Linked DNA regions of Homo sapiens: all the other regions are reported to be linked to region 2. The links are microRNA targets in miRTarBase. Many come from high-throughput screens and were not tested one by one. Region 2 holds a microRNA gene; each other region holds the end of a gene's coding sequence.
What was found. The annotated mature microRNA hsa-miR-182-5p reads UUUGGCAAUGGUAGAACUCACACU and lies in region 2 at 1,932-1,955, opposite strand. An mRNA with a match to its seed (bases 2 to 7 or 8) in the 3' UTR can be bound and repressed. Matches are read on the target gene's strand: a 7mer-m8 pairs with bases 2 to 8, a 7mer-A1 pairs with bases 2 to 7 and ends in A, and an 8mer does both.

Region 1 (3,960 bases), not on the chromosome of region 2:
ACGGGTAGGTTGCTAACCCCAGCGATCAATTTCAGGTTCTGCACTGCCTTGACCATCAAGCAGCATGCGGTCACTCCCTGGAAATAGATTCTGTGCTTGACTGCTGTTGAGAATTGCACGTGCTCTCCTAACGTCATCCCTGACATGCTGTATATATTTTACTTATTTTTTTCTGTCTTTCCCACCAGAATGTAGGCTCTCTGCAGCAAAGATGCTTTTTTGCCTCTAACTTTATTTTTGTCTCCCAGTACCTAGGCACAGGTGGATTGAACAAATGTTTGTGGAATATGAATGGTTAATGACTCGCATCTGCACAGTTTTGGCCCTGCCCTGCCCAAGCGCTGCTCACCCACCCTAACCCTCCCCCTGGCCTGAGGCCAGCTCAGTCAAGCCCAACATACCCAGCCGATGAGGCCGGGTCGCAGTTCACAGAAATATTTGAAGTCGAAGAAACAGATACGAGGGTTGAGCTCTCGTCCCAGAAAAAAGTCGTAAATCGGATTGCCTGGAGAATATTGGAGAGTGAATGTACAGGCAGACGCCCCAATCTGCCTCCGTCTCCACCCCAGGACCCCTCTCACCTGAGTTCCCCCCAGGTGCCAGGGCCGAAACTGGGGCTACCTGCGCCTTCATGTAGAGAAAGAGGCTGAAGATGAAAGCGGTGAGGGTGGCGACAAACGCCAAGGGCAGGAGCATTTCCGGGAGCGCCCCCAGAGGCAGCCCCGCTGACATCCCCAGCCCCACCAACAGGGCTGTCAGCACCAGGGCCTGGAAGCCTGAACCACAGCGCACAGTGAGCCCTGGGGCTGCGCGCCTCCACATCCCCACCCCGCAAACACACGCAGAGCCCAAAACTCAGGGGGGCCACAGACCCTGCCCCAAGCATTAGGCTGCCACCCTGGCCTTCAGAGGATCACCCCAGCCACTGCTGTGGTGCACGGAGTAGCAGTAAATGGGGTAAGGCTGTGGGGACGAGGGGCATAGGGAGAGCCCCCGGCGTCTGTCCTGGGCGTAACAGAGGCACACAAAGGAGCCTGGGGTGGGGGCCAATCTCCGTGGACCTCCCCGCTAGGCCTGGAGCTCCACCCCCGGCCGCTTAACTCCAGCGCGAGGGCCCGTCCCCTAGGCACCGTTAATAGGATAGCGCAGGCGACTCTTGTCCTTCAATTCCTGCCCCTCGGCCACCTGCGGGTCCAAGGGGGCTCTGATAAGGCCCGGGGCGTCCTTTCCCTCGCCGAGCCCATTCGCTTCCCTCCCCCGAGCGTCCGCGAGCGGGGCCCGCACCTTGCGCGCCGGCAGTAGGTAGAGCGCCGCCTGCAGGCCGAGCCAGGCGAGCCACAGCAGCAGCGCCCGTGGGCTCCACAGCACCTCCAGCCCCGGCAGGGACGCGGGTGGACCCAGCAGGCGCGCGGGGCCCGAACGGGCCGCCAGGAGCAGGTGGAACATGGTGGCGGGCAGCAGCAGTAGCAGAGCCGCGGCGCCTGCGGGAAGGGCCATCACGTCGGGCGTCCGCCCCTAGCCCCCCAGCTCCCCGCCGGCCCGCACGGGCGCCCTGACGTCTCTGCGGGACCCTCTCGGCATTCCCAGAGTGCGCCTCCGCACCCCGTCCTCAGCCCTCGGCCCCCAGGCACCCCGCTGCCTCCCAGTTCCCTTCCCAGGCGTCCATCTTAGTCCCCCGCCCCCAGGCCCCTCGAAGACCCTCCTCCTGCTCCCAGTCGACACCATAAATCCCCGTTCTGCAGCCCCCAGAACCGGCCCCTCCTCAGCTCTCCCTCTCCAGACACCCTTCGCTGCAAACCCCCGGGTCCCTCTGCCTCCGACACCCCCAAAGCCTTCCATCCTCAGATCTCGCCCCCGCTCTTAGTTCACCCGCTCCAGCTCTCCTTCGCTTAGCCTTTGCCCCAGGTCCCATCTCTCTGCCCCATTACCCAGGGGCCCTCCGAATTCCAGCGGGGCCCGGGGGCCCTGAGTGGGGGCCATGGTCTCCGCTCCGCCGGAGAGAGAGGGCGCTCACAATAGTCAGTCAAGGAAACACTGTCCGCCCCATTTCCCAGGAGATGGACTCGGCCGCGCGGAGGATCCGGCCCCGCGGCGCCTGCACCTGCCTGGACACGGAACGCAGACAAGGACCGCTCTCGTCCCAGGGTTTTTAAGTGGAACCGCCCCCTGCCCATGCTGGGCCCAGCACACCAGCCAATCGGCGCTCGGGGGCGGACCCGACGCGGGCGCCTCAGAAGCCTCAGCTTCAAAACCCCGCCCCCGGAAAGGCCCGCCCAGCAAGCGAGAGGAGGAGGCCACACATGTTTATTAGGCCGGTCCTGACACCTGCCTGCGGGGAAGGACCACCGAGACCAGATCCTGGGTGCCATGGGGTGCAGGGACAGACCGGTGCATGGCAGCGGCTGCGCCTAGCCGCGCTCGCAGATGACCTCAACCACACTGGGCTCCATGGGCACAGGGTCTGGGCAGCGCAGGGCAGCAGAGGCCACCACTTCGTCCAGCAGCAAGTGCACGAGTTCTTCGTCGGCCACAAAACGCCACAGGTAGAGCTGCAGAAAGTGGCAGTCCACTTGCACCTGCTGCAGCCCGAAGCGCCCAAAGGTGCGCAGCCGCACACACTCCAGCAGCGTCTTCAGGCTGATCTTGATGATGCCGGTCAGCACCGACACCTGCAGGCAGGGACACAGGGATGCAGCTTGGGGACTGCAGGTGTGTGTGGGGGACACCCAAGTTCCAAGCAGGGGCCCGGGAGACATACGATGGAAGTAGCTGGGATGAGGCAGAAAGTCTCCGGGGCCAGATAAGAAGGGAGGGATACAATATTAGCGCCGTCATCTGGAGGGCAGGGGACAGGTAGGGCCCAGCAATCAGAGGCATCCCTGAGCTTGGAGTGAGGCGGGGCAGGGACCATGGGTGAACAGAAAACCCTGGGGAGGACCCAAGACTACTGTGGGGATAAGGACAAGGGCAAACAGTAATCCCAGGTCAGCACCCAGACTCAGGCTGGGCATACACCAAGACTGGGACAAGGGCTGTGGGATTTGGAGGCAGGGCACTCTGTACTACCTAAAAACAGCCCTAGAGACAGAGACTGGAGGGTCAGGGTCACCCCCAGTTGGTCACAGAGTCCTGGGGCTCCTTGGGCAGGTGTGGGGCTGCTCCAGCCAACCCTCCCCGGGATCCCTGGAAGTCTGAGTCACGTTGGAAGTCGGACCTTGTTGAACTCCACAGGGCTGAACACATCAATACGTTCAGAGAATAGCTTCTGGATATTGCTCAAGAGGTTGGTGTCCATCGGGGCACTGGATTGGGGAAGACAAGGAATCAGAGCCCGCCCTGCACCCTCGCCCTCTTTTGTCCCTTCCCCCTGGGGCTCCCCTGACCAGCCAGACCTGGGGGTATAGCTGGGGGCGTAGCGGCCCTGCTGCCGAGAGCTGCTGTACACGGAGAAAGTCCTCTTGCTGGAGTCGCTGCTCTGGGCCTTGCGAACACCCTCTTCGTACAGGAGCCCCACCTGGTGGTAAAAAGAGGTACTGCAAGGAGGCCCGAGTCAGGGGAAACCACCAGCCCATCGGTGCTGAGGATGCCCTAAGTCAGCTACTCAAGCATCACAAGGATCACAGGGTAATCACCGCGGGGCCCGCTATTTAGTAGGTACATGGTCGCTATTTATAGAACCAGTGGAGTGGGGCAAAGGCAGGATACAAGAGTTGGTCTGAGGTCTAATCTTCAGCACCAGCACCAACCCTGCCCTGACTTCCTGGGTAACCCTGAGCCTCTGCTTCTCCACAGGTAAAATAGGGGCGAAGATGTCATAATCCTGGGCTGAGAAGGAACAAGACCGTGGACATAGGCACTCCCCAGCCCGTTTGGTCTTCATCCTTGGAGACTTGTTCCCCTGGGGTTCCCTCACGGACGCCCTGGCTACAGAACTGGCCCCGTGAGAAGCCCAGATACACA
Region 2 (4,100 bases):
TGAAGCAGGACAATGGCGTGAACCCGGGAGGCGGGGTTTGCAGTGAGCCGAGATGGCGCCACTGCACTCCAGCCTGGGCGACAGAGCAAGACTCAAGTCTCAAAAAAAAAAAAAAAAAAGAACAGAGAGCAGAGCCGTTTCAGGCCCTGGTCTCTGGCAGACCCCTACTCACCTTCCTGGGCATGTATCCAAGGTCCTTCTCCCATGGCACCTGCTTCCTCTGCCATCGTGGACTTAATGGCCAAGTCCAACTCCTCCTTTCATTCTGCACACAGCCACAAGAGCCATCCAACCAGAACACACATCTGATCACACCCCCTCTGGCTGCGTGGCTCCCATGGTCCTTAGGTTCGGGAACAAATGCAGCCTTAAGATGGCCAGCCTTCCAGCCCGGCATAGACCCCAGGAAATCTGTGTGCTCTCCAACAGGAGTCTCCTCCTCTCCCTGAGGGTCACTCATCTTCCAGGACTCCCCACCCCTCCCTGTGTCCCAGCAGGTGCCGTGTGGCCCTAGCTCAGAGCAGCCTTCTTCATGCCCTGCAGAGCCAGCCTGTTTACGCAGCGTCTGCTTGTGCTCACGGCATGTAACATGCATAGTGCAGCCTGCGGGAGAACAGTTCCCTTCTCTTTCTGTCTCAAGAGCTGCCGGCTCAGACCTTCCCTACTCGGCCTGTGTCTCCCCAAAAGAGCGCAGTGAGCTGCACGGAGCCGGTTGAGCCTGGAGCCACCAGATAGATGTCTGCCCCGCCCTGCCCAGCCACAGGGGTTGGTGGGTCATGGAACCACACATGACCCTCCGAGGGCAGGTGAGGAGAAAGGAGGGCTGATGGGGGCTGATAGAAGGGGTTTGGGGGATGGGGAGCACCAGAGAAGGAAGGCTGGCAGGCCGAGGGCTGGGGAGCAGGGGATAGGCCTTCACATTTGCATTTGCACCGTTCACTGCGGGCTAGGCCACACTCACACACACACTTACACCTGCACCCACACCCTCTCAACCACACGCGCAGCTCCCACTCTGGCTCCTGAGCCATCTGCAGGCCAGGAGACTCCAGGGCCGGGCTTCCCCAGCAGGTCTGCCCACCAAGCCCAACTCTCTGGGAAGTGCCACTCACTCTGACCCTGTGGCCCGGCTCCGGCTCAGGGGAGCTCCCACTGCAAACACAAGCTCTGGGAAGGTGAGTGGAGGCTTTGTCTCAGGTTCTGAGGCGTCAGGAGGAACAAATCCATGAAGTGGAATGCTGGAGGCATAGAGGTCCAGCCCATGGGCCACCTGCACCCCAGGGGGCCAGTCCCGCATTTACACAAGTGACTTGTACACTCTCCTCCTGCACATCTCTGGAGGCTTATCCCATCTGGCCCTCCATGGCCTCAGCAGGATCACTGGATGTCCGTGATGCACGGCGTGCCCTCCCTGCCCTCATCCTCCCAGCCAGCAGCCCAGGAAGGAACCACTCTTAGTGACCTGTGGAAGGTTAGGAGACCCTCCCTCGGGGCCCTAGAGCCCACCCTGAACAGGGCCTTTCAGGGGAGAGGGTGAGAAGGTTCACCACCCAGAGGAGCCAGGCCAAAGCCCTGAAACCAAACATCCCCCAGTTCCCTCACTCCTCGATTCAGACTCCAGGGCCACAGCCTGGAGCAGAGCTGGACCCCAGCTCCTCTTGGCAGCACCCCTGAGGGCCAGAGAACGGCTTCCCAGCTGACTTGAGGACCTGTGACCTCAGGGGGATGCAGGGAAACACAGAGTGTCACTTCCAGCTGCACCTGCCCTCTGCCACTACCCAGCAGTCCGGGACCTGAGTCCCCTCCTTCCTCGCGGAGAACAGCAGGTCCAGCATGGCCGGCCCTTCCCTCGCTGGCTGTGCACAGGGTGCCGGCTGAGTCCTCGCCCCATAGTTGGCAAGTCTAGAACCACCGGATCCTGTTACCTCACCAGTGTGAGTTCTACCATTGCCAAAAACGGGGGGAGGCAAGCAGCTCCCCCCAGGAGCTGGGGAGGCCTCGGTCTGTGCTGAGGAAGAGACAGAGACAGTTAGGATGGTCCAGGCAGGGCCAGGACAGAGGCGCCCATCCCCGCAACTGCGACAAGGTCCTTCCTGCAGGGTCGCCCTGGTGTGGAGGCCCAACCCCACAGTCCCCCTTCCTGCTGGTCCCGGTCCCTCCTCAGCCCCCTCCTCTCCTCCCTTCCCCTCATATCTGTAACCTGCAGTTCCTGTGGGCAGGCATGGAGCAGACACCATCCCTAGGGCAGCCACCAGGATCCAACCCAGGCCCTGAGCTGTGGTCACCACTCCCAAGGGAACCCGAGGGCACCTCCACTCCCAGCACCTGACAGCAGGGACTCTGGGAACCAGCACAAGCCAGGCCAGAGAGCCCTGCCCCTGGGCGCTGGGGAAGAGATGGCTAATGTGGGCTGGGTTTTGCTATTTACTAAGCCCACGTCACTGCTCCATTTAATCCAGAGAGATGCTCCCAAGCCATTCCCTAGAGCCTAAAGCTCACAGGCTGCCCACCCCAAAGGGAGAGAGGGAAGTTGCTACACAAAACATTCCTCCTCCCTATCAAGTCCAAGGGAGGAAGAGCATTCCACTTGCCAAGGCCTCTTCCCTAAAAGCAGTGGACAAACAATGGCGCTGGGACCTTCTACCCAGGAACGGGAACAGGCAGCCTCTGGGGCCATCAGTCAGTGGCAGGAATGGGCCAAGCTAAAACCAACCAAATATCTCCCATCCAGACGGCACTCTCCTGACCACAGAACCCACTGCACACACCCAGCAGCCCTGCACACACCCAGACCCTTTGAGGGCTGGCTGCGATCTGATTCTCGGAGTGGCATTTCCCCAGACCGCCAGTCACTTACCCAAGGGCAGCACACTTCCGTGTTCCCACTTCCCCTGATGAGGCCAGGTCCTTTCCCAAGGGGTGTTGAAGTGTCCTGAAGGCATCTCAAGCCTTTAGCAAGGGTGCAGGCTGCCTGCCCCCAACCCTGCATCCCCATGCCTCCCCTGCAGCCTGGAAGGGACTCTTTGCCCTCAAGCCTCCTGGGCAGTATGGGCCCACCATGAGCAGGCTCATTTTCCGAACATGCCCCGGCTGGGGGAGCAGCTGACTTGGCAGGGCCCCCAAAATGACACCGCTGCCGCCGCCACCGCCACCACCCCTCCCATCCTGCCTGCCCTTTAGGGTGGAGTGAGATGGGATGATGGCTTAAGATGCAAACAGATCCAGGCCATCCCCAGGGCCAAGTCCAGGACCTCGGTGGCACCCAGACCGGACCGGCAGCCTGGGCTTGGGCGCTGGGGAGGACACCTCTGCCCGAAAGGAGAGGCTTGGTGGGGAAGGTTTGGCCTCTGAGCAGAGGCACGACTCTGGAAGCCTCTCCGAGGGTGGGCGGGCCTGCTTTGGGACATCAGCAGCACTGGGCTCTCTTGGTCCCATGGAGCCCCCAAGCCTGGGACTTGCTGAGGAGGCCACTCCCACCCTCCTCCAGTGTGTATGTGGGGGGTCCTGTCCTCCTCCCCACCCAGCTGTGGCCGCACCAGCCGGGCTCCATCGGCAGCCTGGGGCTGCAGGCGATCAATGGTGCCGGATCGCATTTCGACCCGCCTGAGGCTGGGCAGAGGCTGGGATAATGGCCTGGAATGAATAAGCAAATGGAGTGGTGGGGGAGGCGGGGAGTCTGGAAAACCCACTCATACAGCCCTCCAGGGAGCTGCCCCTCCTGCCGCTCCACGCACCCAGACAGGCCAAGCAAGGTGCCCGACATGGGGGACGCCCTAAACCCGGGCATCTGGGAGCCGCTGCTTTTGACAAACAGAAAAACAAAGCAAAAAGTGCTTCTCAGTGACCCTCCCGCTCCAGCAAGAAAGGCCTTCGCTGCAGTGGGACAGCGTTCCTGCCTGACACTGGACACCATTGGACAGATCATGGGCAGAACCTTTTGCCCATCTCACAGACCTTCTGGAAGCCACACAAGGGAGGATCCAGGACCTGTTCTGCAGGGTGGGGAGGTGAAGAGGGGCCCTCTCCTATCCTAAGTGCCCCCAGCCTGGGTGGTAGGAAATTGTGTCTTTAGGGAGGAGGGCCAGCTGTGGTGGCCCCCA
Region 3 (4,100 bases), not on the chromosome of region 2:
TAAATTGGGATGTTGCCCTCTAGTTAGTGGTTAGGCATTTGTTATTTCCCTCCCTCTGTCCCTCCTTCCTTCCTTCCTCCCTTCCTCCCTTCCTTCATTCTCTCTCTTTCTTTTTTTCTTTCATTTAATATGGCTGTTGATCTCTAATCCATGATTTTATATTACACAAAATCTTTTATCATCAATCTTCCTCCCTCATTTATTCAAGACAATGTTTTCTCTATGCTGTAATCAATCTTTAGTGTGTATATATATATATATATATTTAGATTCTGAAGAATCACGTATATTCTTTTATGTTTGTTCAGTGTTTTCATCTCCGTTCTTGTCTAGTGCTTACTTTGGTTTCTATTTGTATAACCATATTTAATTGCAGCATTAGTTAGCTGGGTTATAATAGTATAACAAGAGTCAGAAAGACCCGGGCTGAAAATCAGCTCTGAAAACCACTGTCTGTGTCTGTGTATATCTAAAACCAGGTGGTAAGTGTACCTATTTCAATGTTTATTCTATGTATTGAAAGAAATAACATAGTATAGTGCTCATCCCAAACCATTTGTGCAGTAAAAAAGAAAAAAAAAAGTTAGAATATAAATTCTACAAGTGCTGAGATATTCACTAATGTTCACAAGCACTTACTACAGTCCTTGGCACCCAGGAAACACTCAATAAATACCTGTCAGTGATTGCTGTTCTTAGGCTACTATAGCCCTCCTCTCAATGCTTTGAAGATGAAAGATAAAAGAAATATCTATAAAGTACATAATAAAAGGTCTGACGTAGAGTATTTGATTTTGCTAGAAATGTATTTGCAGGAGCTTGTCATCCGGTCAATGATTGGTTTAGATAGCGTTCTTGAGAAAACATCTTCAGAAAGGCTAACAGTCTTCTGTTTCATCCTTCTCAGGCATCCTATTTTCATTGGTGGTGATGCTGTATGTCATCTGGGTCCAGGCAGTGGCTGACATGGAAAGCTACCGAAACATGAAAATGAAGGACTGCCTGGATTTCACCCCTTCTGTTCTGTATGGCTGGTCATTTTTCCTGGCCCCAGCTGGGATATTTTTTTCTTTGCTAGCTGGATTACTATTTCTGGTTGTTGGATGGCATATTCAGATACATCACTAAATCAACTGTTGCCACAAGTATTTTCTTGAGAGATTTTAAAACAAGGAATACTTTTTTTCCATTTTGTTTCATTGATCCCAGCATAAAGTTAGTAGATATAACTTTTTAGTTGCTATTCAAATTAATCATTTTACTAAAATTTTCTTCAGTAAGAAGGTCCTAGAATCTCTCCAGACACCAGCAAGCCTCTATCTTGTCTAAGTGCTGTCAAGGACCTAGTTCTTTAGGGAATAGGTAAACAGGTCTCCCTTTCATTGAACATGTTAGAGTTCATGCAGGTCGCAAAGGCCTGATAATAGCTTAATACCATGACATGGGGAAAATCTCGATAGATTTGGCTTAAAGTCTCCTTGGCATTCACTTCTGCTAATTAAAAAAAATCCTTGAAGAATAATTAAGAATGGGCAAGGTTGTCAGAGAATTTATTTTGTTTCTTGCCCACACAGATAATATCCACATACACATTCACTGGCTCTTGTGAGCAAATGAATTTAAAAATAGACAGCAGTTGTTCTAATTAGTGGGAGCCATGTACTCACCAGTTAAAATGGGCCACAACAAACAAGACTGAGAGCATGTACTTATCTTGCTTTTTCACCAACAGTGGTTTGGTTACCTAGTTTTATTCACTTAATTGTGCATGCTTACATAAACTTTAAACTACATTTAAAACTAGCAAATCTGCATACCAAATTATGTATAACGTAGATTGAATTTTTATGAACTTAAAGTGAGTTAATTGTATAATGTAATATTGTTTAAAATATGTAAAAACCAAGCATTTCCGCTTGGTCCATAATTCTATTTGATATTTTAAAATTCTCATTTAAAAATTATATTGCTATCATTCAGCATGTGAAAATTTATTGATAAAATGTGATTTTAATATTTTTTAGATATAAACTTTCAACGTACTTCCATATGAGGATTATAATAGCCCTGCTTTATTAAAGACCATAAAATATTAACTTTCCCCAAGATGTTATGGGTTCCAGTTCTTCTGATCATTTGATTCCTTTAATTACTGTCCCTCAATTTCTTCATCTTTACAATAGATATATTAACATTTACAGATCGACTATTTCCTTTAACCTCCTAGAAGAAAGTTTTTGTGGGGAAAGATGATTCTGTATTATTCAGTAGCATAGACATTTTGCATATCAAAGATGTTCATTTGGCACTAATGTTGATTGAAATCAAATCCATCTGAGATGCCTAGCTCGTATTTGCATTCTGGAAGCCTCCATCGCAGGGGAGCTCGGCAGGGTATGTGAGCTTTGTTGGAGGTGCGGTGTTTCATTCTGCAGCTGTTGTGAGGACAGAGAGGCATGGCCCACAGGCAAAAAAAGTCACCACCCAGAAGATGCTCTGGGATAGAGGAACTGCTCCTTTTCATCAGCTCTTCCAATGCCGTGGGAGAGGTGATCCCAGTCTTCTCTGTACATCTTGTGCTTTTCCATTAAGACTTGTTCCAGTGGGAAGGAGCTTTGGAAAAATTGCAAAGGTCTGAATCTTCAGGGCATTTTCATGACAGGACTTGCCAATAATAATAATAATAATAATAATAATAATAATAATAAAGCTCCAGAGGCCTAACTGGTTTCTCAAGTCATTTCAGTGATATCATTGAAACGTTTTTGTGGTACTTCCCTTTGTCTTTCACTGTTTCATTTTTATATTGCTTCATTTACTTCTTTGCTTTTGGCTTTGTTATTAGAAAAAATAATTATGAGGTCTGTTGTGCATGTTGACTGTGATATTAAGTTATGGCATGCCATTAAGTTTTCCAGACGATGTTGGATGTATCTGATTAGTTCATGTCATCTGTAAATACAATTCTTTTTTGTAGTACTTTGGAATGGAGCCTTTTTCTGGTGTACTGTATGCCATTTAAGTTTCACATACAAGCTGCTTTCGGCAAAGGCTTGAATATTTATAAATTTCAGATGGTTATCCTCACTTTATAGTACACTTAAGTGGCTACCATATATTTTTTATATGACAATTGGCTGAATAGCTGATGTGTATGACACTTTTACACAGATTTGCACTTTGGAACTATTTTATAGTTGTAATGCATCAATCAAATACATTTCAAGCACATTTCTTGATCAATTTACCAGCAACCCTCTGAAGGAATGAAGGAGAGTTGTGATTGCTATGTCAATGAGTGAAATATACTTAAAAATGGCAGAGTTATATAGTACATTATTGTAGCAACCTTATATCTGATTTGAGATACTGTGTTGCCAAATGTCCATGTTATGTTTATTTCTCTATTGGTTGTATTTATTAATTTTTAGAAGCCTTTAAACTGTGTTAGAATCTTTTTGAAAAATGTTGATTTTGCATCATAAAGTTTCAATTTATCAAGGATATCTTTTCAGTTACACTTTTAGAAAGAGTGAATAAAAAGGGCAGTGAGTTATGCTCTTGGACTTGGTGAAAGCTATCATCTCTCCATATTGTATTTGTTCAGCTGGTTTAATTCACTCAGGTGGATGATTGCACATACATTGGAATTGGCTGGAGAGACTACACAGAGAAGTTTAATGATCGTGTACAATTTGAGGGTTGATGGTAGGGCTTTCTAAAAAAAGTAATATCAAGTGTGTTGTTAGTATTCATTTAGTCATTTTTATTACTAATCTATAAATATATTTATTAAATTTGAAGATTAAATGGAATTATAAAGGAATATATTGGAGGAAGTGTCAGTGTTGGTAATTATTCATCTATTTATCTGTCTATCATCAATATATATGGGTGCATGTCTGTGTATATTTGTGTGTATGTAAGTGTGCATGTGTATTATATGTTTGGGTAGAAAGAGATACATTGAATGGTATAAATCAATATATTTGAGCTAAGCAAGTTAAAAAAAAATCAGTTATCTTTGGGAACAGCAATCTATTATTGTTGTTTCCCTGAGTGCCACTTTAACTGTTTCACTCAATGGATGGTGGTTTATT
Region 4 (4,006 bases), not on the chromosome of region 2:
GGCTCGAGCTCATGGACTTTCCCTTATTCCATCCACGGGTCTCTGCTCTCCAGATTTGGTGAATCGGATCATCAAGCAAGAACCCGTTCTTGAGAACTGCAGCCAAGACCTCCTTCAGCATCATGCAGACCTAACCTGTACAACAACTCTCGATCTCACGGATGGCACCATCACCTTCAACAACAACCTCGGAACTGGGACTGAGGCCAACCAAGCCTATAGTGTCCCCACAAAAATGGGATCCAAACTGGAAGACATCCTGATGGACGACACCCTTTCTCCCGTCGGTGTCACTGATCCACTCCTTTCCTCAGTGTCCCCCGGAGCTTCCAAAACAAGCAGCCGGAGGAGCAGTATGAGCATGGAAGAGACGGAGCACACTTGTTAGCGAATCCTCCCTGCACTGCATTCGCACAAACTGCTTCCTTTCTTGATTCGTAGATTTAATAACTTACCTGAAGGGGTTTTCTTGATAATTTTCCTTTAATATGAAATTTTTTTTCATGCTTTATCAATAGCCCAGGATATATTTTATTTTTAGAATTTTGTGAAACAGACTTGTATATTCTATTTTACAACTACAAATGCCTCCAAAGTATTGTACAAATAAGTGTGCAGTATCTGTGAACTGAATTCACCACAGACTTTAGCTTTCTGAGCAAGAGGATTTTGCGTCAGAGAAATGTCTGTCCATTTTTATTCAGGGGAAACTTGATTTGAGATTTTTATGCCTGTGACTTCCTTGGAAATCAAATGTAAAGTTTAATTGAAAGAATGTAAAGCAACCAAAAAGAAAAAAAAAAAGAAAGAAAGAGGAAAAGAAATCCATACTAACCCTTTTCCATTTTATAAATGTATTGATTCATTGGTACTGCCTTAAAGATACAGTACCCCTCTAGCTTTGTTTAGTCTTTATACTGCAAACTATTTAAAGAAATATGTATTCTGTAAAAGAAAAAAAAAATGCGGCCTTTTCATGAGGATCGTCTGGTTAGAAAACATAACTGATACCAACCGAAACTGAAGGGAGTTAGACCAAGGCTCTGAAATATAAAGTCTAATCTTGCTCTCTTTTATTCTGTGCTGTTACAGTTTTCTTCATCAATGAGTGTGATCCAGTTTTTCATAAGATATTTTATTTTGAAATGGAAATTAATGTCCTCTCAAAGTAAAATATTGAGGAGCACTGAAAGTATGTTTTACTTTTTTTTTATTTTATTTTTGCTTTTGATAAGAAAACCGAACTGGGCATATTTCTAATTGGCTTTACTATTTTTATTTTTAAATTATGTTTTACTGTTCATTTGATTTGTACAGATTCTTTATTATCATTGTTCTTTTCAATATATTTGTATTAATTTGTAAGAATATGCATCTTAAAATGGCAAGTTTTCCATATTTTTACAACTCACTGGTGGTTTTCCGCATTCTTTGTACACCCATGAAAGAAAACTTTTATGCAAGGTCTTGCATTTAAAAGACAGCTTTGCGAATATTTTGTAAATTACAGTCTCACTCAGAACTGTTTTTGGACACATTTAAGGTGTAGTATTAATAGGTTAAAACCAGGCTTTCTAGAAAGAATAAACTTACATATTTATTTTTAGGACATGAAAATAGCAATATTCTTGGAGATTGATAACCATAGCATTAATACGCCCATTATGGTCATTTAAATTGGGGTTTATTTCAGCAAACTTGTTGAATTTATTTTTAAGAAAGAAATACTGTATTGGGAAGTTACTGTTACTTGATAACAATGTTTTAACAAGAAGCAATGTTATAAAGTTAGTTTCAGTGCATTATCTACTTGTGTAGTCCTATGCAATAACAGTAGTGTTACATGTATCAAGCCTAGATGTTTTATACAGATGCCATATAGTGTTATGAGCCAGGCTGTTGAATGGAATTTCTCAGTAGCAGCCTACAACTGAATAGCAAGTGGCATAAAGCATATCCATTCAGAATGAAGTGCCTTAAATATAGCAGTAGTCTTTTTTGGACTAGCACTGACTGAACTGTAATGTAGGGGAAAGTTTCATGATGGTATCTATAGTCAAGACGAACATGTAGCATGGTGCCTATGTAGACAATATAAGAGCTTCCAATTTTCCTTCAGATATTTTTAATATTAAATATATTTTAGTGACAGAGTGCCAACTTCTTTCATCAGGAAACCTTATTCAGGAGGGTTTTTAAAAAGTGTTTAAATGTCAAATGTGAATTGGTGATGGGTGATGGAGGGTTCAGAGAGGAGTGATCGTCAGATGTGTGAATGGACGGTTTAGGTGAAAATAATCAACTGCATAGTTCCCATGCACGCTGGGCAATGAGAATCCTTGGAAACATTGGTGATGCTATCAGTTTTATAGCTTTATTTCTTAAGGGGGTAGGGAAAATTAGTTCCCATTCTTTCAACCCCCTTAACTGTATAGCTCTTTTCCTAGAATAGTGACGCAAATCTGCATGAACAGCTAATTGTACCATAGTGTTCATTGATACAATCATAGCATTGTCTATTTTTCTCTTCATATTTATATGGGGGGGAGGGCGCTGGATGCAAAAGTTGAAGATCGTGATGCTATGATGTTAGTTTTCCTTAGCTGATTTTGAGGGTTTTTAAAAATAAAGCAAGGTTGACTAACCTACGGCCACGGGAACAGGACCATGGTTAAGCAACCATATAGAAAGCTTTGTTGAAAGAAAGTATGGCATCTTGTACCACTGCCCTGACTGTCACAACTCCTAACCTTGCCATTGCCTGCCTCCCCCTCCCCTTCTCCTTAAGAGACAATTTCTGCAGGTGGCAGGTGAGCAAGCCCAGGAGAATGCTGCAATCTTGGGGGTGGTTTTATTTATTTCTTTTTTGCCAAATAGAGTGTGGATTCATTTCAGGGGCTAGCTAAGCCAAGAGGCAGTGGTTTGGGCTTGTTGTTTGTAACAAGAAAATGATCCACACCACTCCCCCGATTCCCGGGTGCAGAATTGTAACTCGGGGTTGGGCCTCTATATGGAGTGACCAAAATGCCAAAATTGTCCATCTGCCTCTGAGTAGGGCAATGGAAATACCAAACCTTCTGACTTTGCCAAAAAGCATACAAGCAACCTGGTCATACATAGGATGACAAAATTCTTTCTGGTTGTTTTTAAACAATAAAGCAATAAGAACAAATACAATACATAGGAAGTTAAAAGCACAAAGGAATGAACTTATTAATATTTTTGAAAAATGCACTGGGAAAAAGTTGATGTCAATAACAGTATAAAACAGCCCTATTTCTTGATAAAAAATGACAAATGACTGTCTCTTGCGGATGCTTGGTACTGTAATGTTAATAATAGTCACCTGCTGTTGGATGCAGCAATAATTTCTGTATGGTCCATAGCACTGTATATTATGGATCGATATTAATGTATCCAATGAAATAATCGACTTGTTCTTGATAGCCTCATTAAAGCATTTGGTTTTTCACATAGTGGTGGCCTATTGTGTTAATGCCAATTTTGAATGCTATCTGCCATATCAAAAAATGGTAGTGCACATTTTCTTCTGATTTAATGAATAACAAATTGCATGAAAATTTAGAAAATGCCAGTAAGTACTTTTTTTGTTTAAAATGCCACTCTAAGATGTTACTTTTTGGTTTTAAACATTTTTGATTACTTTTTGACTTACACTCAGATGAGGTGTAATTATGCACCTTTTTTATCCCCCTCTGAATTTGGGGAGATTTTAAACTCCCAAATGCCAAGACTTCATTTTAGATATAGGAGTTTTATTTAAAATGTTTCATTGAGAGGTGGCTTTAAAAAAGAGAAATTGTCAGAGAAACCCTTGCATATTTACAGAAAAGATATTGGGTTTTTAAAATACAAATTTACAATAATGAAAGCTTAATATACCCAGGCTGCCAGCTCCTGGTTGCCTTTTTTTTTTAATACACTACTTAAGAATCATTTGATAAATGTTGGATTTGAATTGGGAAGTGTCAGACAAAACATGTCT
Region 5 (4,100 bases), not on the chromosome of region 2:
CTGGGAGGTAGCACATCTTCTGATGGTCCCAGGCCTGGGGGTTTCCCAGCCTGCAAATCCTCCTCCCACAATGCCGAGAGCCAGAGTCCATTCCACCTCCTTTCGCCCCCAGGAACCTCAAGAAGTTCCGCCGCCGGTGGCAGAGCGAGCAGGCGCGGGCCCTGCGCGGTGAGGCCAGGAGCTCCTGGAAGCGGCTGGTGGGCGTGGAGAGCGCCTGCGACGTGGACTGCCGCTTCAAGCTCAGCACTCACAAGATGGTGTTCATCGTGAACTCCGAGGACTACATGTACCGTCGCGGGACCCTCTGCCGGGCCAAGCAGGTGCCAGGGGAGGCCTGGGCTGCCCCGACATGCCCCTCCTCACCCCAAGTCCTGGGGCCCTGGGGGTCCAGCCCTCAGCTGCCCTGACACCCGGCCTCTTCAACAGGTGCAGCCCCTGGTCCTGCTCCGCCACCACCAGCACTTTGAGGAGTGGCACAGCCGCTGGCTGGAGGACAATGTGACGGTGGAGGCGGCTAGCCTGGTGCAGGACTGGCTGATGGGTGAGGAGGACGAGGACATGGTACCCTGCAAGACGCTGTGTGAGACAGTGCACGTGCACGGCCTGCCCGTGACCCGCTACCGCGTGCAGTACAGCCGCCGCCCGGCCTCGCCCTGACCCGCCCTCATGGGCACCGGGCAGGCGCCTCACAGAGCACAGACGTGCCCTCGGCCTTGGTCGTGTCGGGGCCGTTTTCTTGAACGACGTGAGAGGCATCTCCCAGCCCCTCTGCTGCCGGACAGCGCACTCCAGGGCAGGACGCCGCCCCCGTGGCTCCCGGTCTCCTGTGGGCCTGCTGTGTGCCAAACCTGAGCTACCTGCACCCGAGCCCTGGGGCTCAGCCCCACCACAGGGGCGGGTGGACGTGCTGGCCGAGGAACAAGCAATCATGTTTGCGTCCCCGTCCGTCACATGTGCCAAATCCCTGGCAGGCAGATGGCTCCTGCCCCATATTCTTGCCGTGTCTTGGAAAAGTCACAGGTGACAGCCCTCCTGAGGCCCACACTTTGGAGGGGGTCCATGTCCAAGAGACCCTGACAAGGAAGGAGTTGAGCCCTGGGTAGGCTTGCTTGAAAAGTGAGTCCTTCCAGAATATTCTCAGAGCTGCCAGAAACATCATCTGAGGGTTTGGGCATCAGCTCTGCCTGGCTGGTGTTCAGGCCCTCAGTCACTTTGGAAGTGAGAAGAACCCTTCAGCCAAACCTTTGGGATCCCATTTTGAAGTCCAGAGCTGGAGCAGGCGGGCAGTGCCCTGGGAGACCCCGCTCTGGATAAGACACCCAACCCCAACTCCAGCAGCTGGACTCTGGGCCCACAAGGGGAGGGACCCCAGCCAGTATTCCCTCAGAGCCGGCACGACCCTGCTGTGGGGCGGCGGGCCCAGTCGTGTTCCTGCAGTGGGCACCCTAGGCGTATGTGTATACACGCACAGATATTTATTCCTTTCGCTTTTAGTGGTTGTTATTTCTGTAGCAGCCAAGTCCTGCGGCTCCCTGGGGCTGAGATCTCCCTTTGTGGAACTCCGAGAGCCGCCCTGACAGTCCCAGCCGCCACCCAAGGAGCCCCATCCGCCCACCCACCCTGGGACCCACGCGGCCACTCCAGGGATCATTGTTGTCCTTTTGTGAGGGGCTGAGGCGACTGTCCCATGGAGGCATCCAAGGCTTTCTGTGCCAAGAATCCCAAGTGACTGGGGCTGGGGACCACTTCTCCAGGCCTCTCTCCCCGACCATGAGAGCCCCTGGCCCTGGCCCCTGCACACCAGTAGGCCCAGAATAACCGCCACCCTTGCCATCCTGCAACAGCTGGACTCAAGTTTCCAGGAAGTGGAGATGTGTTTCTAGAAGTTTCCTGTGGAACCTGGAGGCTCCTGATGCCTTTGACTCCAGGCTGGGCGATTCCGATGCTGACCCGTCCTCCTGGGCTCCCCACCCCCGCTCCCCAAGTGTCACACAGGCACTTTGTACACATCCTGGTTTTCTAAGAAGGGAACTTGCCATCAAGATTCCTGTACCAGGCCCACGGCCGTCTCGGGCAGAGCCACCTGGGCCCCGGGTGCAGCCGGAGACCCCGCCGAGCCCCTCCTCCCAGTATTCCCATCCCCGCATGCTTCTAGGGAGCGCCTCTTTTCCGTTCTTGAGGAATTTCTGTTCTGGGGCTTGTCCTTCCTTTGCAGCTGTTTTGAATGTAGTTTTCCTTTTCTATTTATTTGCACATTAAAGTTAATAATTGAATATTGACATCAAGCCGTGAGGGTGTGTTGGTCTTCCTGTGAGAGCCTTGCTGACTTCCTGCCACCAGGTCAGTGGGCTGGACCCATGAGAGCAAGGGGTGGCTGGGTGTGCCTACCTGGGACCAGGGGAGTCGAAGCCCCTCCTTGAACCAAGATCATCTCACACCCTGCACCTGCCCCGCCACGACATGGGAGTGTCTTCTAGAATATTCTTTCCCCATTCCATTTGCACATTTAGTGGGAATTAGAAGCGTCTCCTTCGCCCGAGTGTCTCTCATGCAGAACCCAATTTAAAGATCATGGTGTTTGCTCTAAGGTGTTTGTTCTAAGCTTCCCATGCCCAACCTATCCGTCCAGGCCCATGCCTGCCCACCCACCCCACACGACCACCCTCTGTACTCCTTGGGGCCCCACCCACTTCCTGGCTTTCACCATCATTTTCTCCTCATCTCCTGCCCCCTGTCTGCATCCCAAGCTCCACACCTGCTTCCGGGTAGCAGAAGCCCCAGCTCTGCTGTGTCCCCTGGCTGACATACCTGGAGGGTTCCAAGGCAGAAGTGGCCAGCCCCTCCCCCTCAGTATGGGCTCCTCCATCCTCTGTAGGGGAGGGGCCATAGCTTCCTCCCAGTGACCCATGTGCTCCCTGTACACCCAAGCGTCTCTGGCAGTTCTGACCACACCCCCACCGGAGGGTCAGGGCTCCCAGGGAGCGTGGCAAGCCAGACCGGAGGCCGCCCTGTTTCCTTCTGCCTTGATCCCATGGCTGGGGATGCCCAGGGTCCTCTGTGGGCCCCCAGACTGGCTTTCCTTGGTCAGAAGTGCTGCAGGGGCTGGGAAAGGCTGTGCTGGTCCCAGGAGAGCAGACAAAGAGCAGATCTCCGAGGTGGCCCTGCCCTGAGGGGTCCCCTGCCCTCAAGTAGGGCCCATGGCCTTGATGAGGTGATATGACATGAGTTGAGAGAGGTTCCTCACTGGCCCTGAAGATGTCTCCGCTGTGCTGGGGAGGGGACCCTGTGGCAAGGGACAGAGAGTGGCCTCCAAGAGCCAAGGGGGACCTCAGAGCCACCACTACCACCAGGACCCAAATTCTGCCCAAGTCCACTTGGGCCCAGAAAAGGCCCCCGAGCAGCAGATAAGGACACAGCCCAGCTGACACCTTGATCTCAGCCTCATTTGACCCTGAACCAAAGACCCAGCCTCCCAGGCTGGACCCCTGACCCACGGAAACAAAAGGTCATAGAGGCGTGTGGCTGTGAGCCACATTCATTATCCAGAGATAGATACAGCAGCATTAATAAAGCCGCTGCATGTCCAGCACCTCCCCTTCCACCTCCGTCAAGTACGGGGAGGTGGCTGAGGGTCTCAGGAACCCCTACTGAGGGGGGAAATGAAAGAAAAAAGAAAAAATTAAAAAGAGAATTAAGCTTTTCCTGTATTAGGCTGACTTGTCTCAGAGGCAGCAACAGGCACAGCCCAGACCCAGGAAAAGTCTTAATAATACTAAGAAGCCAAGACACAAAGGAATGTGCTCTGGAGCCTCTCCCAGCACTCCCTCAACATAGGGAGAAGAAAAACAAATTTTCCTTTGTTTCATGGTATGAGTTTATAGATTCCTGCTCTCTACACCTAGTGACTTCAAATATTCTGTTTTATCAGCAGTGGAGTGAAGGTCATAAACTGTCTGAGCAGCCTGAGATAGAGCCACCTGGGTGCCATAGTGATGGCCATGGAATAAGCCATGCTAAGCACTAGGGCAAACCTACATAATGGCCATCTGAGTTGCACAGCAACGGTCATGTCTAATCCTGAGTTATGAGCCTGTTATAAT
Region 6 (4,100 bases), not on the chromosome of region 2:
TTCCCTGTGGACGCAGCTCTCTGTTGTCATGTTCTGGATCCAGCAGGCTGCTCCCAAGTACAGATTTGGTAGAACTGGAAAGGGAGGTATTCTGGGAAGTTTTGGAGGATGGAGTTGGCAAAGCTAAGGAGTGAAAGCATTTCGGCCGTCTCTGTAGCTGGGGCAGCGGCCACTAATGTTTTCTGAAAGGGATTGTGACAGTGGACTTGAGCATCCTGGCAGGTTAGGGGTAGTGGAGCTTGTCTGCGTTTGTAGAAAGATACTTCAGAGGCCCCTAAAATTGGCCTATGGTTAAACTGTGTAACCACCAGGCAAGGTACCAGGGATTTCCACCTTTTCACTCACCCGCCCCACCCTGTTTTCCTTCCCACAATAAATAGAAGACCATAGTCTCTTTCTTCCTTTGATTTTGCCCAAATAACAGCTGCTCAGTTTGTTACATAGGTATTATCCAGCTAAAGTGACTTCTCTCCCTTAACAGAGAGAAGAGGGGACAAATTTGGTTGTGAAGTAAACAAGAAACACAAGACGGCTAAAACTCTCCAGGGGCAGGTAAAGCCCTGCTGGGCTCAGAAGCACTATAGAATTTGCTGTACACACTGAAGTGGGTCTGTGTCACACAGGTATTTCTTGGTCCTCTGGAGAGCAGAGGACTCACTCAGCTCTTTGCTTCATGCCTCGCTTTAATGGTAGTAAACACTTAACCAGTGGAATAGTCTGACTGCTGGTACTGATGGCATCAGAAGAAAACAGGTTAACAATCAAGTAGTGAAAGCACTATATTCTAGTCATTAACTCAACGGAGCCAGTCTCAACTCTGCTGGGAGCACCCACAGGTCTCTGTGGGGGAGACAGGGACTATAACAGGGAGGCAGAATTCAGGTTGGCTTGACAACACACCTTAGGAACATGTGCTAAGGGGCTAAGGAGGCATCAGCTGTCTTCCTTATTCTACCAGGGCTGAAAATCGGAGTCACTTAGGAGGCAGCATGAGAACAGTGGCACACCACCAGTGAGGCACATGTTGCCTTTTTGTCTTTAAGCAACACCTTAGACAGGGCCTGAACCCTGGGTGGGGGCACTGGATGCCTGAAGTAAGTAAGTTTTCTCAGTGGGGCAGTCTCATAAAATCACCAGGACATTGACCACCTGACCTCCCCTAACTAGTGCTGGCCAAGGCCTGAGAGTTCACAGAACCTGCTAGGTCTTAAGAGCCAAAGGAAGGAAGTGGTTGAGGGCCAGGAAAGAGAAGGAATGTCATGCCAGGGTGTTACTCCTCACCAAAACTTGGCAGTTCTTTTTGGGGCCATGGGACACCTTTCTCTGAAGAGGGGTTGGATAAGGCAAAGGTTGAAGTGTCTTCTCTAGGCACGTTTTCTAGCATGTTTCCTTTTACTTGGTTCTGTCTCACAAAGCTGGGAGGTAGATGATTCTTCCGGGTCCTGAGCACCTGCTTCATGAAGGAAGATAGGTAGCCCAGAGAAGAAGTTTTGGACTTAACAACATACCAAGGCAGCTCTGGCCTGTGACTCAGGCGTTTGTTGGAGAGCTGCAGGAAAACCACTGCAGTGTGCCTGCAACAGGACAAGACCCACTCCTGTTTCTGGCGGTACCAGCTACCCTGGAATGGTGGCGTGTCCTGCTGTACCCAACTGACTTGCTTAGGTACCTGGCAGCTGTGACCACAGCTCAAGTAAAAAAACAAAAACAGGCAAATAAATAAACATGCTTAACATGTCTTTGTGTTGCTGTTTTGTTATGAACGTGCTTGCTCTCTTGCGAGGCACCTGTCCATTCCACATCACCGAGGGGTCTACGAGAGCACTGCCAAGTGTTCCTGTGGACCAGCATGACCTCTCCACAGCCTGCAGTGAGCCCCAGCCTCTAATCTCAGGTGTCACTCATGCTACCTTATCCTAGCTCCGGTAAGGGAGCAGACCTGGAGAGAGGATGCCACGGCCAGCAGAACCTGGAGTTCCTGGTTATCATCTAGGGGCTCATTCGCTTACCAGAGCTTCTGTTCTCCTCAGCCCTGACAGTGTTCCCTGTTTGAACATCCAAGGTACCAGACACGCTGAAGAATGGCATTTGGGGTGTTCCATGGTGACAAAACTGTGTGCTCTGGTTTTCCTCCCTGGCCCACACTGTCCGCAGTACCTTCCTTACTTACTTGAGACAGGGAAGAAGACGGAATCTCACCCTTCTTCCCAGCTAGAGGGTACCTCCGCATCCCTTTCCTCCCCAACTGGCTTGAGTGGCTTCAAGCTCTAGCACTGCCTAACAAACAAACAAACACCTCAGTGACTTGTGATTTCCCCCCAGAAAAATATCTATTAATTATTTCCCAATGGTCTCCACCTCGGCATCAGGGCACAAGGTGTAGGCACATGCTCTGATCTTGCACCTAGGAAACCGTCATTATCAAGGGCATCCCCTAGTCCACTGTGCTCCCCGGTAAGTACTTCAGTCTAGAGGTTCAGTATCCCCCCACAAATCTCTAGGTATGACTGGACACGGGCCTGCTCTATTACCCATCACCCCTGAACGACCAGAGAAAGCCAAAAATCACAAACAACTAGGCAAAGTTCATGAGTAAATCCAAGGAAGGCTGCCTCCAACCCTCCATTCCAGTATTTGGACTCCCGGGCCCCTGGGAACCTGAGGCAACTCTGTCTCCCAACACTGGCTATCCCTGGGCTGAGTGAGGCTAGAAAGTAGGCCGAACCAGGAGCCTGGACAGATCAGGGGCCCCGAGACCCCCTGGCATCAACAGTGCACAGCTTCTCCTTGTACAAGACTACACAGCTGCTGAAGGCTACCTGCTGCCAAACATGCTGAGTGGGCACTCTGTCCCAAACAAACAGCCACAGCTCAAACTGATGATGATGGACACACACACGGTTTAAGGCAGAAAAAACCATCAGTAGCTGCTGACCACAGGCCTTGCGCTCACCCCATCCCTTCCTTTGCATGGGCTCTACTCAGGCTTGTGTGGCAGCGTCCACAGCCCAAACTGAAGCTTGCCTGCTGTCAGCCAAGATAAAAATGAGTGTAAGTAGAGTCCAGACTGAGCCTGAAGAATTGAGAGGCCGAGAGTGACCCATGCAGCAGTGGTGCTGGAAGGATGACGTAGGGCATTCGTGTACATGCACTAGGGATGTCTTCGATTCTTTTAGCTTGATTGATTAAACCAGGACTCTGAACAGGTTTAAAAATCCATCCTCTGTCAAAGGTTTTACTGACAACTTTCCATACAGTTGGTCAAAAAATAAAAAAATACAGAACCACAGCAGACAGTATCTTGTACACTAGAAATCAACATAACCGGATTCCCTTCTCATCGTTTAAAAAAAAAAATCCCCCAAAATCTAAGAACTTAGTTTTGGTGGTGGACAGGACTTTGATCCCCACCCAAATGAACCAAAATAACCCAGGAGATAATTCAAACCAAAGTGGTAGGGTAGAGAGGGGATCAGATTTTAAAATAACTGCTTTTGTGACACAAACATGACGCTGGGAAAGACAGGCTTGGGCTAGGCAGTGTCTCTGACGATGACTATCACCATGTGTTCTTCTTCTAGCTTGCCCAATGTCCTTAGTGCTGACTGGAGGTACTGCTGGGAAAAGTCGCAGGGTGGGAAGGCGTAGAGCATGCCTGTGCCGTCTCTGCCCTTGGACCCCCCCACTGGCAAGCTGATCACCCCTGCGGCCTGCTTCTGTTTCAAGTAGGAGACCAGGTTCCTGAGAAGCCGCCTCTGCAGACCGGGCTCTACTGTGGGCATCCCCTCAGTGCCAAGCCCACTGGGGGTTGCCTGGGTGGCTAAGAGGACCGCATAGCCGTTGGGGCTCCCCTGCTTGATGCGTCGTGTGACCTCGTCAAGCTTGGGCTGGTCCAGTCGAAGGCGCTGGGCGATCTTCAGCTGGGTCAGCTTGCTCCCAGAAGTGTGGTCTTTGAGGAGACTGCTGATCACCCCCTGGTCCCCCTCTAGGATATGCATAGACGTGGGGAAGCAGCTGTTTTTCAACACCAGAAGCCCATTCCAACCCAGCTGTAGTGTCTGAGCGTACTCTGAAAGATTCTTCAGCTTTTTGGTCTCGTG
Region 7 (4,100 bases), not on the chromosome of region 2:
CAAAGTCATGACCTAGTCAGGAGCTAGTACAGATCTGTAAATAAGGTCAATATCAGCACCTCAGAGGGATATTGACAGAATTAAGTAAGATAGCCGTGTGAGATTTGGTAAGACAGCCACGGTGCCCAGCACTTGATGCATGATGCTTAGTAGTTCCCTGGTCTTGTCTTTATGTATACAGCTCCAATGAAACCAACAAAAAACAATAATTATTATAGAAAACAATAAAATCTTTTAATATACCACTTTATTCCGCCAATGAGCAGAAAACCTAAGTTCAAAATCCATTTGACGAAAAAACAGTTGAGGTATTTATCCCTAGTTGAGTTAGTTCATTTATTTTCACTTATAAAGGTGTAGCACTTTTTTTCAATTTAATCACTAACATTTGAGCAACTTTTAAAGCCAAGCACTGCATGTTTCTCCAAAAAAAAAAAAAAAAGGGTGAATATAAATGAGTCTATGTGTACGTGTGTGTCTTTGAGGGACAGTTAGGAGAGAAACAATTTTGACTCAAAAGGAAACAAAACAACAGCCTTATTTGGGGAGAAATGTAGAAATGAAGAATATACGTAGCAAGTCAGGGCTTTAGCATCTGCTGAGCATGGTCAGGCCTGTTCTTACTGAATTGTGATCTGGTTTCAGGATGAGACAGTAGGCGAAAAGAGTAAAATAGAAAAAAGCCCACGCCTGGGCAACGAGGCAAGACCCCGTCTCTACAAAAATTAAAAAATTAGCCAGGCATGGTGGTGCGTGCCTGTGGTCCCAGCTACTCAGGAGGCTGAGGCGGGAGGATCACTTGAGTCCAGGCGGTGGAGGCTGCAGTGAGCTGAGATCGTGCCATTGCACTCCAGCCTGGGCAACAGACCACGACCCTGTCTCAAAAAAAAAAAAAAAAAGGAAGAAGAAGAAAGAAGAAAGCAAAGTATTTCCTAAAACTGGAAACCATAACTTATGAAAGTGAGATACTTAAAAATGTCTCTATTGGAAGGCACCACAAAACGGGTCATTTTGTCAAGTTCTTGCGCAGCTTGAAGGAATCATTGAGTCGCCTTGGGCGGATCTCCTCGCGCCACCAGGGGGCGCGCTGGGCCTCCCAATGCGGCCAGGCAGGCAGACGCAGTTTTCGTCTTTGAGGTCCTGTCATTCTCTGTATAAACAAGTTACGTTCAAGTGTTTAGGATATAAATTACGACCATGCCGGCTGCCTCGGAAGGAATGTAAACACAGCACTGTGGTCGGAGCAAACTCTGAAACTGACTTCATAATTTATAGCAGGCCCCCGAGTAGCTCACTATAAAAGAAAATAAAAAGGCCTTATTTAACTGCAAATATGATAATGGAGAGACAAAAAATGTTTAAATCACTTCTTAATTTTAGAAGATATAGGAAGGAAACCTAAAGATTAGAAAGATGGTTAAGACTTTCGGAAACAAGATGTTTCACTCAGGAGACGCTCTTTGCAGTGAAATTCACTTAGAATACAAAAACCCTGGGGTGTGAAACAGTTCCCTACGAATACCAAGAGTCTGGTGACTGACTGGGAGAAAGACCTTTTAAGGGATAAGAAACAAAGGTGAGTTTTCCAATCAAGAAAGAAAAAGCAAAAAACAAAAACAAAACTCCAGCCCTGAATTGGAGAGGAAAATGCACAGCATGATTGGAGCAGATAATTTCTCTGCTTCTCTCAGACCCATTGTCCCCAACATGGCTCGTGATGGTGAAGGGCTGCTGGGACAGAAGGTCAGTCCTCCTGCCTAGTTGGCCCATTTTGCTCTTCCATCGGGAGCGTCACCAGCTCTGCCTGTAACACTGGTGACTGGGAAATCTAGCAGGAACAGAAAAAGGGGCTGAGGGGTTCCCTTGTTAAATCCCTGGTTAAAAGGGAGGAGTGGGGAGAGGAGGCCGGGAGGAAGGAAGGGCTGAACCGGCTTGCTATGTGCCGATGCTGAGCAGGGCCAGCCAGGCTCTGAATTGGAGGGTGGGACAGGCCGCAGCCACAGAGCAACGTGTGGGGAGTCCAGCTTCTGTATTAAACTCCCCAAGGAAGTTAAACCCCCTGCTGGGAGCCTGCCCCCTGCAGCTCAGGGATCCCCCTGCATTCTTCAGATCTGAACCCCATTTCTGACAGCATGTGACCGCCACCCATAACAAAATTGCAACGTGCAAAGGGAAGAAGCAGGGTGCTGTTCTTTGGGCATCCAACCCTGGAGGGGGGCTTACCACTGTGCCCCACATCTGTCAACCCATGCCAGTCGGGAGGGAGAGAGGGCAAAGGGCAGAACACTCCCCGGGCACAGGAAAGAAAACAGAAGGGGCACAAAATTGGTTTCCTCAAAATCAAACCCTGGTCGGTATCTTGCCTGGTTTTCTTTCTAGTTCCTTTCACCTTCTGGTTTTTGTTTTGCCAGAAAAAGCTGGGGTGAAGTAAAGAAAGAAATAACAGAAAACGTTTCTTCCACTGTTTTTCTCCTGAGAAGACTCACAATCAGAACCTGGCCTGTGTTACTCAAGGCACAGACCCCACACCATGTCAGTTACACCACTGGAGGGGGTGTGGGTAGAGTTGCACAGCTGCCTGCCGGGGAGGAGAAACTGGCATCCATTGCTCTCAGGGTGCCCGAAGAGAAAATCAGCCCCTAAAACAACTATTTGTTATATACATTTTATTGAAAAAAAATTTTACAACAAAATATTTTGGCAAACTGTAAAAGTATACATAAGTGCAAATATATCCTCCTTTTAAAATACAAGCAAAGTGTGAGTATACACGGTCATAAAAATATCTTTAAAATATGGTGGTAGAAAACAACCTTGTAAAAACGTTGTATTGTCACAATACTGAAAACCACTTTCTTAAACTAGACACATTGTTTCTAAATAATTCCTTAATAATGTTCTTTGGCACCTGTATCCAAATGTAGTGTCTGGGGAAAATGACTCTCCCACTCAGCTAGGCAACAAGAAGAGGCTTTCTTGAAATCTTGTGCTTAGCACTGCCTTTTTGAAAAGCACACAAGTTTTCTTAGACACACACACACACACACAACTTGTCTGCTTTTTTCACACCCTGATTACTGAAGGCAACGAAGATCCCACAGATACACGTTGATGCCTTACGCATGGCACATCTTCCCACCTGAGTCTGCCCTCTCCCTCATGTGGGAGCCTGCAGGTATTCAGATTGGGGAACGCTACCTTGCCAGCGGTTGTCCTTCTTCCAGCAGTAGGCAAATAACAGTGACCAACGCGATCCTGGGCATTCTGGCTAAGTGGCAGGTGTGTGGCTTACTGCTATCCGCGTGCATGTGACTTGAATCCGTCCCAGTTTCTATCTGCCCCCTCTGAGGAGGGGAGAGGAGAGAGCGGCCATCGCTTGGCCTCTTTCCGTTCACATGACGCAGGGCTTAATATCCTGACAGACGCTCTGGTGGTGATGGTGATAATACGACCCGCTAGCTGAGGGATGGAAAGAAGAAATCCCATTGAAGTTGAGGACGAAATCTTTTCTGTCACACACTGGAGTAGAGTGATGCTGGTAACGGGGCAGTCCCACTGAAAGAAGAAAGAAAAAAAAACCTCTTCAGAAACAAAGTCATCCAGTGGATGGCAGGGTGTCTTATTTTGCCTCAGAGTACAAAAGGTGCTGCTGTGCCTTTTAGTAAATTGCTAGACAGCTGGTAGAGAAAGCCCAGCTTTAGAAGTAGCTCAAACACACCAACTGCACGTCATAGAATTGCTTTGGAATCATTATGTTTTGTTTTGATGCTCGCACAAACACAGAGCAAGTTCCCCCTCGAGGGGGATTCTTATGTCCTGGAATTCCAATTTTATTCTCTGAGGCTGGGGCGTGCACTTTAATCTCAGAATGAGCACAGGTACCGGACAACTAGACCCAGACTCTGGTTCCGGGTCTCTCCCGGCAGAGCTCCTGGCCTGTGCTGCCCTGAGCCCTGGCTTCAGGGAGGGCCAAGCACCCTACCCCAGAAACACCACTGCGGCCTTCTTTCTGAGCCTTGTTTCCCAACTAACTGGGCCGGTCACAGCAGCGAGCGCAGAGGACTCCCTGTGCCAAAGGGGACGATAGAAAACAACCCAAT

Region 1: miRTarBase lists VPS51 as a target of hsa-miR-182-5p. The part of its 3' UTR that is shown has no 7-base or 8-base seed match.
Region 3: the mRNA of TMEM182 is a reported target of hsa-miR-182-5p. Seed matches in the 3' UTR shown: 7mer-m8 at 2,666-2,672 and 8mer at 3,375-3,382.
Region 4: miRTarBase lists MITF as a target of hsa-miR-182-5p. Seed matches in the 3' UTR shown: 8mer at 2,867-2,874, 7mer-A1 at 3,026-3,032 and 8mer at 3,084-3,091.
Region 5: the mRNA of SIN3B is a reported target of hsa-miR-182-5p. Seed matches in the 3' UTR shown: 7mer-A1 at 841-847 and 7mer-A1 at 955-961.
Region 6: the mRNA of RBM15B is a reported target of hsa-miR-182-5p. Seed matches in the 3' UTR shown: 7mer-m8 at 115-121.
Region 7: miRTarBase lists FOXF2 as a target of hsa-miR-182-5p. Seed matches in the 3' UTR shown: 7mer-A1 at 2,901-2,907 and 8mer at 2,697-2,704.

Annotation. Positions count from the first base shown.
Region 1 is chr11:65,110,036-65,113,995 of GRCh38, reverse strand. VPS51 (VPS51 subunit of GARP complex) reads right to left here. Exons shown (of 10, transcript NM_013265.4): 8 at 3,393-3,514; 9 at 3,215-3,302; 10 at 2,134-2,669. The coding sequence ends at 2,409. It overlaps TM7SF2 (transmembrane 7 superfamily member 2), which reads right to left and starts at 2,124. Exons shown (of 10, transcript NM_003273.6): 1 at 1,929-2,124; 2 at 1,285-1,481; 3 at 1,131-1,185; 4 at 582-776; 5 at 402-505. The coding sequence starts at 1,980. RefSeq lists silencers at 1,313-1,742, 3,008-3,183 and enhancers at 1,873-1,922, 1,993-2,102, 2,025-2,319, 2,016-2,941, 2,942-3,869.
Region 2 is chr7:129,768,516-129,772,615 of GRCh38, forward strand. MIR182 (microRNA 182) reads right to left here and starts at 1,977; the gene lies at 1,868-1,977. LOC105375501 (a long non-coding RNA gene) reads right to left here and starts at 690. Exons shown (of 3, transcript XR_927963.4): 1 at 173-690. RefSeq lists an enhancer at 2,128-2,991.
Region 3 is chr2:102,813,841-102,817,940 of GRCh38, forward strand. It overlaps TMEM182 (transmembrane protein 182), which reads left to right. Exons shown (of 5, transcript NM_144632.5): 5 at 908-3,839. The coding sequence ends at 1,128. Among named protein-coding and RNA genes, the nearest start is that of TMEM182, 54 kb to the left of the region's middle.
Region 4 is chr3:69,964,861-69,968,866 of GRCh38, forward strand. It overlaps MITF (melanocyte inducing transcription factor), which reads left to right. Exons shown (of 10, transcript NM_001354604.2): 10 at 1-3,472. The coding sequence ends at 388. Among named protein-coding and RNA genes, the nearest start is that of SAMMSON, 33 kb to the right of the region's middle.
Region 5 is chr19:16,878,071-16,882,170 of GRCh38, forward strand. It overlaps SIN3B (SIN3 transcription regulator family member B), which reads left to right. Exons shown (of 19, transcript NM_001297595.2): 18 at 113-320; 19 at 427-2,279. The coding sequence ends at 657. Among named protein-coding and RNA genes, the nearest start is that of F2RL3, 8.9 kb to the right of the region's middle.
Region 6 is chr3:51,393,506-51,397,605 of GRCh38, reverse strand. RBM15B (RNA binding motif protein 15B) reads right to left here. Exons shown (of 1, transcript NM_013286.5): 1 at 1-4,100. The coding sequence ends at 3,534. It also overlaps a transcript of DCAF1 not described here. Among named protein-coding and RNA genes, the nearest start is that of RBM15B, 4.3 kb to the right of the region's middle. RefSeq lists an enhancer at 3,799-4,100.
Region 7 is chr6:1,394,151-1,398,250 of GRCh38, reverse strand. FOXF2 (forkhead box F2) reads right to left here. Exons shown (of 2, transcript NM_001452.2): 2 at 2,648-3,555. The coding sequence ends at 3,392. Among named protein-coding and RNA genes, the nearest start is that of MIR6720, 5.8 kb to the right of the region's middle.